Homo sapiens: one gene and its partner. The protein of the gene in region 1 interacts with the protein of each later gene in a biochemical or structural test. Each region holds a gene or a part of one and is shown on either strand. Other genes may lie near its edges. The genes, in order: MAP3K11 and RHOG.

Region 1 (3,803 bases):
GGCTGGTCTCAAAATCCTGACCTTGTGATCTGTCCGTCTCGGCCTCCCAAAGTGCTGGGATTACAGGCGTGAGCCACCATGCCCGGCCTATGGTTTTTTGTTTTTTTTTTTTTTGAGACGGAGTCTTGCTCTGTTGCCCAGGCTGGAGTGCAGTGGCGTGATTTTGGCTCACTGCAACCTCCACCTTCCAGGTTCAAGCAATTCTCCTGCCTCAGCCTCCAGAGTAGCTGGGACTACAGGCATGCACCACCACACCTGGCTAATTTTTGTATTTTTAGTAGAGATGGGGTTTCACCATGTGGCCAGGTTGAACTCCTGACCTCATGTGATCCGCCGGCCTCGGCCTCCCAAACTGCTGTGATGACAGGAGTGAGCCACTGCACCTGGCCGAGAAGAGCCTTGAATGACTGACCAAGGCTGGTGGATTTGGTCCCAGGAGAGGCATGCAGTACAAGGCATCCAACTGCCTATTGTTGGGGCATCAGGACACCAGGGTTGTATGATAGGTTGGGTCACCTGGTTACCTCCAAGAAAGGTGACAGGCTACATGTGGGGAGACAGCTTTTGAGTTTATTTGGCTTCTGGCTTCACTGGATCCCGAGGCTAAGACTCCAACCCTGGCTGGGGCAGCAGGAAGGCATCCAGAGAGCCCTGGCCCCAGATGACCCCCAGGGCAGGAGGTCCATGCTCTAAGCCCTAGGGCAGGGGCCGCAGTAGCAGGACTTGGTCAAAAGTGCTGGTGACAGCTGAGGCCGGCCCCTCTTCCCTGCACCTCCCCTCCTCCCTGCATCACCCCAGCAGGCAATTCCCTGAGACAGGCTCTGGTCCTCCCAACCAGCTGGGTACAGTGTTGGGCCCCAGTAGGGCAGGTGAGCTGGGGGGACCTACAGGTTTCAGATGTGGGGGCGCAGGTCCCCCTTCCAGTGTGAAGGCTTCCTGTGCAGTGTAGTGTTCCTGACCCCCAAAGGGGGGTGGGGTCCCTGGGGAAACTGAGGCAGCTGCAGAGGCTGACCCAGCTCCTGTTCCAGTGTATGCTGTGACTCCTCCTAAGGCAGCTGGAGCTCGGGGGAGTGGCCTGGCCCACTCAAGGCCCCGCTTCCGGCACCCACGGGGCCTGGGCACCCATGTCTTTGGTCTGTGCCCTGCAGTCCTGGGGGCCCCCCTGGAAGGGGTTGGCAGGTGGGGAGTCCCAGAAGGGGTCTGAGTCCGGGAACAAGGTCCAGGGTGCTCGGCGGGGTGCAGGCTGTGGTGATGGCAGGGGAGAAGGCCGTGGCCCAGCTGACACAAAGCTCCAGGGATCAATGCGGCTGCGAAGGGGCGAGGGCCGAGGTCGGCTGATGAGGCCCAGGGGTGGTGAACGTGGGGTGCCTGGGGTGCCAGGAGCAGAGCGTGATGTCCCCGGTGGGGGTGAGACAGTGCCTCCTGTGAGGATATAGGAGGGGCACAGGGTCAAGCAACCCCCAACTGCTGAGGTCCCCAAGACACTGTCCTGCTCTGGGCCTCAGTTTCCCCATGTGCACAGTGACCTACTTGACTCAACTTCCACCGCCCTTCCTGCTCCGTGGTGCCTCTGTTTTTTGTAATAGTTAGGAGTGAGGCCTCTGCAGCAGGCTGGCCTGGATGTGGATCCCGGCCCTGCCACTTACTAGCTGTGGGAGCTGTGGGTCCCTTAATCTCTGTGCCTTAAATTTCCTCATCTAAAAATGGGCATCCAGGAGCGCTTAGTTCTCTGGTTGTTATGACTAAATGAGACCATCTCGGGAAAGCCTTGCAAACAGTACTTGGCACAAGTAAGGAGCCAGGAGTTTGCTACGATTATGATTACATGTATGCTGTGTCGCCCAGGCTGGAGTCCAGTGTCATGATCACCGCTCACTGCAGCCTCAACCTTTCAAGGCTCACGTGATCCTCCCAGAGTGCTGGGATCACAGGCGTGCACCACTGCCTGGCCCGATTACTTCTTTTATTTCACAGCAGGCATCGCCCCCACCTGCCTGGACCACCTGATAGCTGAACTTAGAACTCTGCTCCCTACATGCGTCTTCAGTACCCCGAATGCCTGGTTCAGGGTCCAGCTGATGACTGTGGTCTCGGCCTTGCCTCCTTGCATGTCCCCACCAGCCACTCCTCCCTCCCTGGGAACCCCCGTCTCCCATATGTGAAGCAGGCCGGCTTCAGGCCACTCACCGCGGGGCTCCTCCTCACGTCGGGGGCTCTTGGCTGACCGCTGGCCCACAGGGATACCCAGGTCCAGCAACAGGGGTGCAGGAGTGGGCGGGGAGTCGGGCGTCTTGAGCGAGAAGCAGATGAGCGGGGAAGGGGGCGGCTCGGTCGGGCAGGGCGCGGGCGTTGGCGTGGGGGGTGTTGTCGGGGACTCCCCGCGCTCGCGTCCTGGGCCTCCCGGCGGCTGCAGGTCGCGGCCAAGGCCCAGCGAGGCGAGCAGGGCGGTGCCGCGCAGCAGCGCCCGCTGGATCAGCTTGGGCGTCCCAGAGCTGCTACCGCGCTCTGCGGGGACAGGCCTCTTGGGCTCCTCGGGCTCCAGGCTAGGCCGCGGGGGGTTACCTGCGGGCAGAGGCGGCACAGGTGAGGGTGTGGCTGGTGCATATTCCGGGTGAGGGCCCAAGACCTCTCCGTGGTCTTGGAACAAGGACTGAGTTCTGCCCTCTACTAGCATCTTCCCTGGTCCCACAGGTCCCATGGCCTCCCCATCACATACCCACATTCTGGCCTTTCACAAGATGGGCACTGGGAGGGGAGGGCAGTGCAGGTGGAGGAAGCGGCAGCAAAGCCCAATGGCAGCCAGCGACCCCAGACCCGAAAGATGGATGGGCAGTCCCAGTGGAGGCAGGCTGGGGCCAGGTCACAGTGGGCCTCTGTGGCCTGCCAGGGGCAACCTCCAGGCCCAGGGGCATGGCAGGTCCCACTGACTGGGACCGGCGCCCTGTGCTCTGTGCCCACCAGCTTCCTGGCTTGGCAGCCCTGCCCCTTCTGCCCACCCACCCCCGCTCCAGCTGTAGCTTATAAGATGCACACAGTCAACTCTAAGGTACATGGCAGCCCTGAGGGCATAAATCCCTGTCTCTATTCTAGAAAGGAGGAAAATGAGGTTCAGAGGGGTCAGTACCTTGCCCAAGGTCACAGCTAATTTACAGAGTATGTATTTGTGCCAGGCCTGAGCTGAATGGCATAGGGGCATTATGTTGTCTGATTCTCATGCCCCAGGGGTTCCAGGCTCAGAGAGGTTGAGGGCTTGTGCGGAGCTGTACAGCCAGTGAAAGGTGGAGCCGGCCTCACCCCAGGCAAGGGCAGTAGAACCTTTGCTCTCCACCATTTCCCAGCCAGACTCTGCCCTAGATTTCAAGACACTAGTGTCCTACCTTCCAGTCTAGGGTTGGCCTGACTCCATTCTAGACCACTTGGGCAGGGATGGGGAACCCCTCATTAAGGACAAGGGACTCTAGGATGGGCTCTCACAAGCCCTGATTTTGTCAGATCCCTCCTTGGCTCTAGAAACTGCTGTGGCTCTCCACTGTCACTAGGAGAAAGTCTGGCCTCCTTGGCTGGTCCTCTGAAGCCCTCCCTGGCCTTGTCCCTCTGCCTTTCCCCTCCTGCCTGGAGTGCAGCAGCAGGTTGGATGTCGGGAGGGAGAAATACAAGGCTGGGAAAAATGAGCTTCTACTATGAACCAGGACTTAGCTCACAGTCCCTTCTGTCAGCCCCAACCCTTACTCAGACTCTCTGCCTCTTACCTCACCCAACTCCCACCCCGGCCACTGCCACTGAAGGGACAAGGGAATCCTTCT
Region 2 (2,561 bases), about 62 Mb from region 1:
GGTAGAAAGCACATAAACTCTGGCGCCAGACAAACTAAGGTCAAATCCTGATTTTGCTATTTCCTAGCTGTGTAACCCTGAAAAAATTGCTTAACCTCTGTATGCCTAAGTTTTCTTACCAGTAAAATGAGGATAAAATAATATCTACCTCACTGGGTCATTGTGAGCATTATATAATACATGTAAAGCATTTAAAACAGTGCCTCGTCCACAAGTATTAGCTATTTTTTTTTTTTTTTTTTTGAGACAGAGTCTCACTCTGTCACCCAGGCTGGAGTGCAGTGGCGTCATCTCGGCTTACTGCAAGCTCCGCCTCCTGGGTTCACGCCATTCTGCCTCAGCCTCTCGAGTAGCTGGGACTACAGGCACCCACCACCACGCCCGGCTAATTTTTTGTATTTTTAGTAGAGATGGGGTTTCACCGTGTTGGCCAGGATGGTCTCGATCTCCTGACCTCGTGATCCGCCCGCCTTGGCCTCCTAAAGTGCTGGGATTACAGGCGTGAGCCACTGCGCCTGGCCAGTATTAGCTATTTTTTTTTTCCAGGCTATACAGACACAAAAGGAGAGTGCACAAATTTAGGGATCTACTAGATCCTCTACTAAATATGGACCCTTTCCACCAGGAGACTGGAAAGTGTTTTGGCACAGGACAGCTGTCCCAGGTCACTCTGTGATGCAGCCATAAGTAGAACCTCTCTCAACTCAGGGCCCACCCTGCCCTCTCCAAACCTGGTATCTTGGCTACTGAGTACAAACCCAAAGGCACAGTTAAGAAACCTGCTGAGTAAGGGGCTCAATTCTTTAGAGAGCTGCCCTATCCCAATCCAGGGTATTCTGGCAATGGGGAAATTTTTTTTTTTTTTTTTTTTTGAGATGGAGTCTCACTCTGTCGTCCAGGCTGGAGTGCAGTGGCGTGATCTCAGCTCACTGCAACCTCCGCCTCCTGGGTTCAAGTGTCTCCTGCCTCAGCCTCCCGAGTGGCTGGGACTACAGGCAGGTGCCACTGCATCCGGCTAATTTTTATATTTTTAGTAGAGATGGAGTTTCGCCGTGTTAGCCATGCTGGTCTCAAGCTCCTGACCTCAGGTGATCTACCTGCCTCAGCCTTCCAAAGTGCTGGGATTACAGGCGTGAACCACCACACCTGGCCACCCCATCATTCTTGTAAGTACTGAAAACCCTATCTGGCCATGTACACTCAGATTGCCAATTCAATGCAGGGGAATACTGGAGATTCAGTTGGACCTGGGATTTGGACTGGGGTCTGGGTATGTTATGATGAATGAGGTAGAGGCTGAGGCTCCCAGACATTAGTATCTTCTCTCAAGGCCCTTGGTGGGGTGGAGCAAATTTTTTTCTTTTTTGAGACGGAGTCTTGCTCTGTCGCCCAGGCTGGAGTGTAGTGGCGCAATCTTGACTCACTGCAACCTCCACCTCCCGGGTTCAAGCGATTCTCCTGCCTCACCCTCCCGAGTGGCTGGGATTACAGGCGCATGCCACCACGTCCAGCTAATTTTTGTATTTTTAGTAGAGACGGGGTTTCACCATGTTAGTCAGGCTAGTCTTGAACTCCTGACCTTGTGATCTGCCCGCCTTGGCCTTCCAAAAAGTGCTGGGATTACAGGCATGAGCCACCATGCCCGGCCTGGAGCAAATCTTTCAGGCCCAACTAGGAAGGATGAAGTCAAGAGTAAGACAAAAACTTGACTTTCCCCTCAATCTTCTGTCCATTTCCTGAGATCCTGGCATGTGCCTCTGAAAGATTTTAGAGACTTCCAGACTCTTGGATAGAAAATACCATCATTAAGAACATAGATGCTAGAGTAAGACTCGCAGGTATTCTAATCACAGCTCCACCAACTAGTTATATGTGATCTTGGCAATATATTTGTTCCCTGAGCCTCAATTTTCTCATCTGTAAAATGGGGATAATCTTGCCTATTGCATTACAATTGCTCAGAATATGAAATGAGGCCAGGCACGGTGACTCATGCCTGTAATCTTAGCACTTTGGGAGAATGAGGCAGGTAGATCGCTTGAGCCCAGGAGTTTGAGACTAGCCTGGGCAACATGGCAAAACCCTGACTCTACAAAAAATGAAAAAATTACCAGGGTGTGGTGGTACACACCTGTAGTCCCAGCTACTCGGGAGGCTGAGGTGGGAGCATCACTTGATCCCAGGGTGGTCAAGGCTGCAGTGGGCTATGATCACACCACTGCACTCCAGCCTGTGCGACAGAGCAAGACCCTGTCTCAAAAAAAAAAAAATAAAAAGTAAGAGTTAATAATGTATAGAAGATGTCCAGCATGAGGTATGGCACATAGCAAGTGCCCAATAAATGGACTGCTGTATTTATGAGTGGGGTAAGTATGAGGAGTCCCAGCTCCAGCCAACATCTGGTTACCTCTGCAGGTCACAGGGCCTCGGGGAGATGAACTGCTTTTCTGAGTTCTGGAACACAGCTTCCAGAAACCCTGTGATTATTTACACTGCTATGGCAAGGATCCTTCTCTCATCAGCTACTTCCTCTTGGCCATGGGGGACTCTTGGTGGTCAAT

What was found.
Region 2: the proteins of MAP3K11 (region 1) and RHOG form a complex in vitro, tested with the Homo sapiens proteins (one study listed by BioGRID).

The regions. Positions count from the first base shown.
Region 1 is NC_000011.10:65,597,207-65,601,009, forward strand, and holds the end of MAP3K11 (mitogen-activated protein kinase kinase kinase 11), read right to left. Parts: intron 2,563-3,803; coding exon 2,188-2,562; intron 1,423-2,187; coding exon 1,085-1,422; 3' UTR 551-1,084; downstream 1-550. UniProt on the Homo sapiens protein: Activates the JUN N-terminal pathway. Required for serum-stimulated cell proliferation and for mitogen and cytokine activation of MAPK14 (p38), MAPK3 (ERK) and MAPK8 (JNK1) through phosphorylation and activation of MAP2K4/MKK4 and MAP2K7/MKK7.
Region 2 is NC_000011.10:3,828,399-3,830,959, forward strand, and holds part of RHOG (rho-related GTP-binding protein RhoG), read right to left. Parts: intron 1-2,561.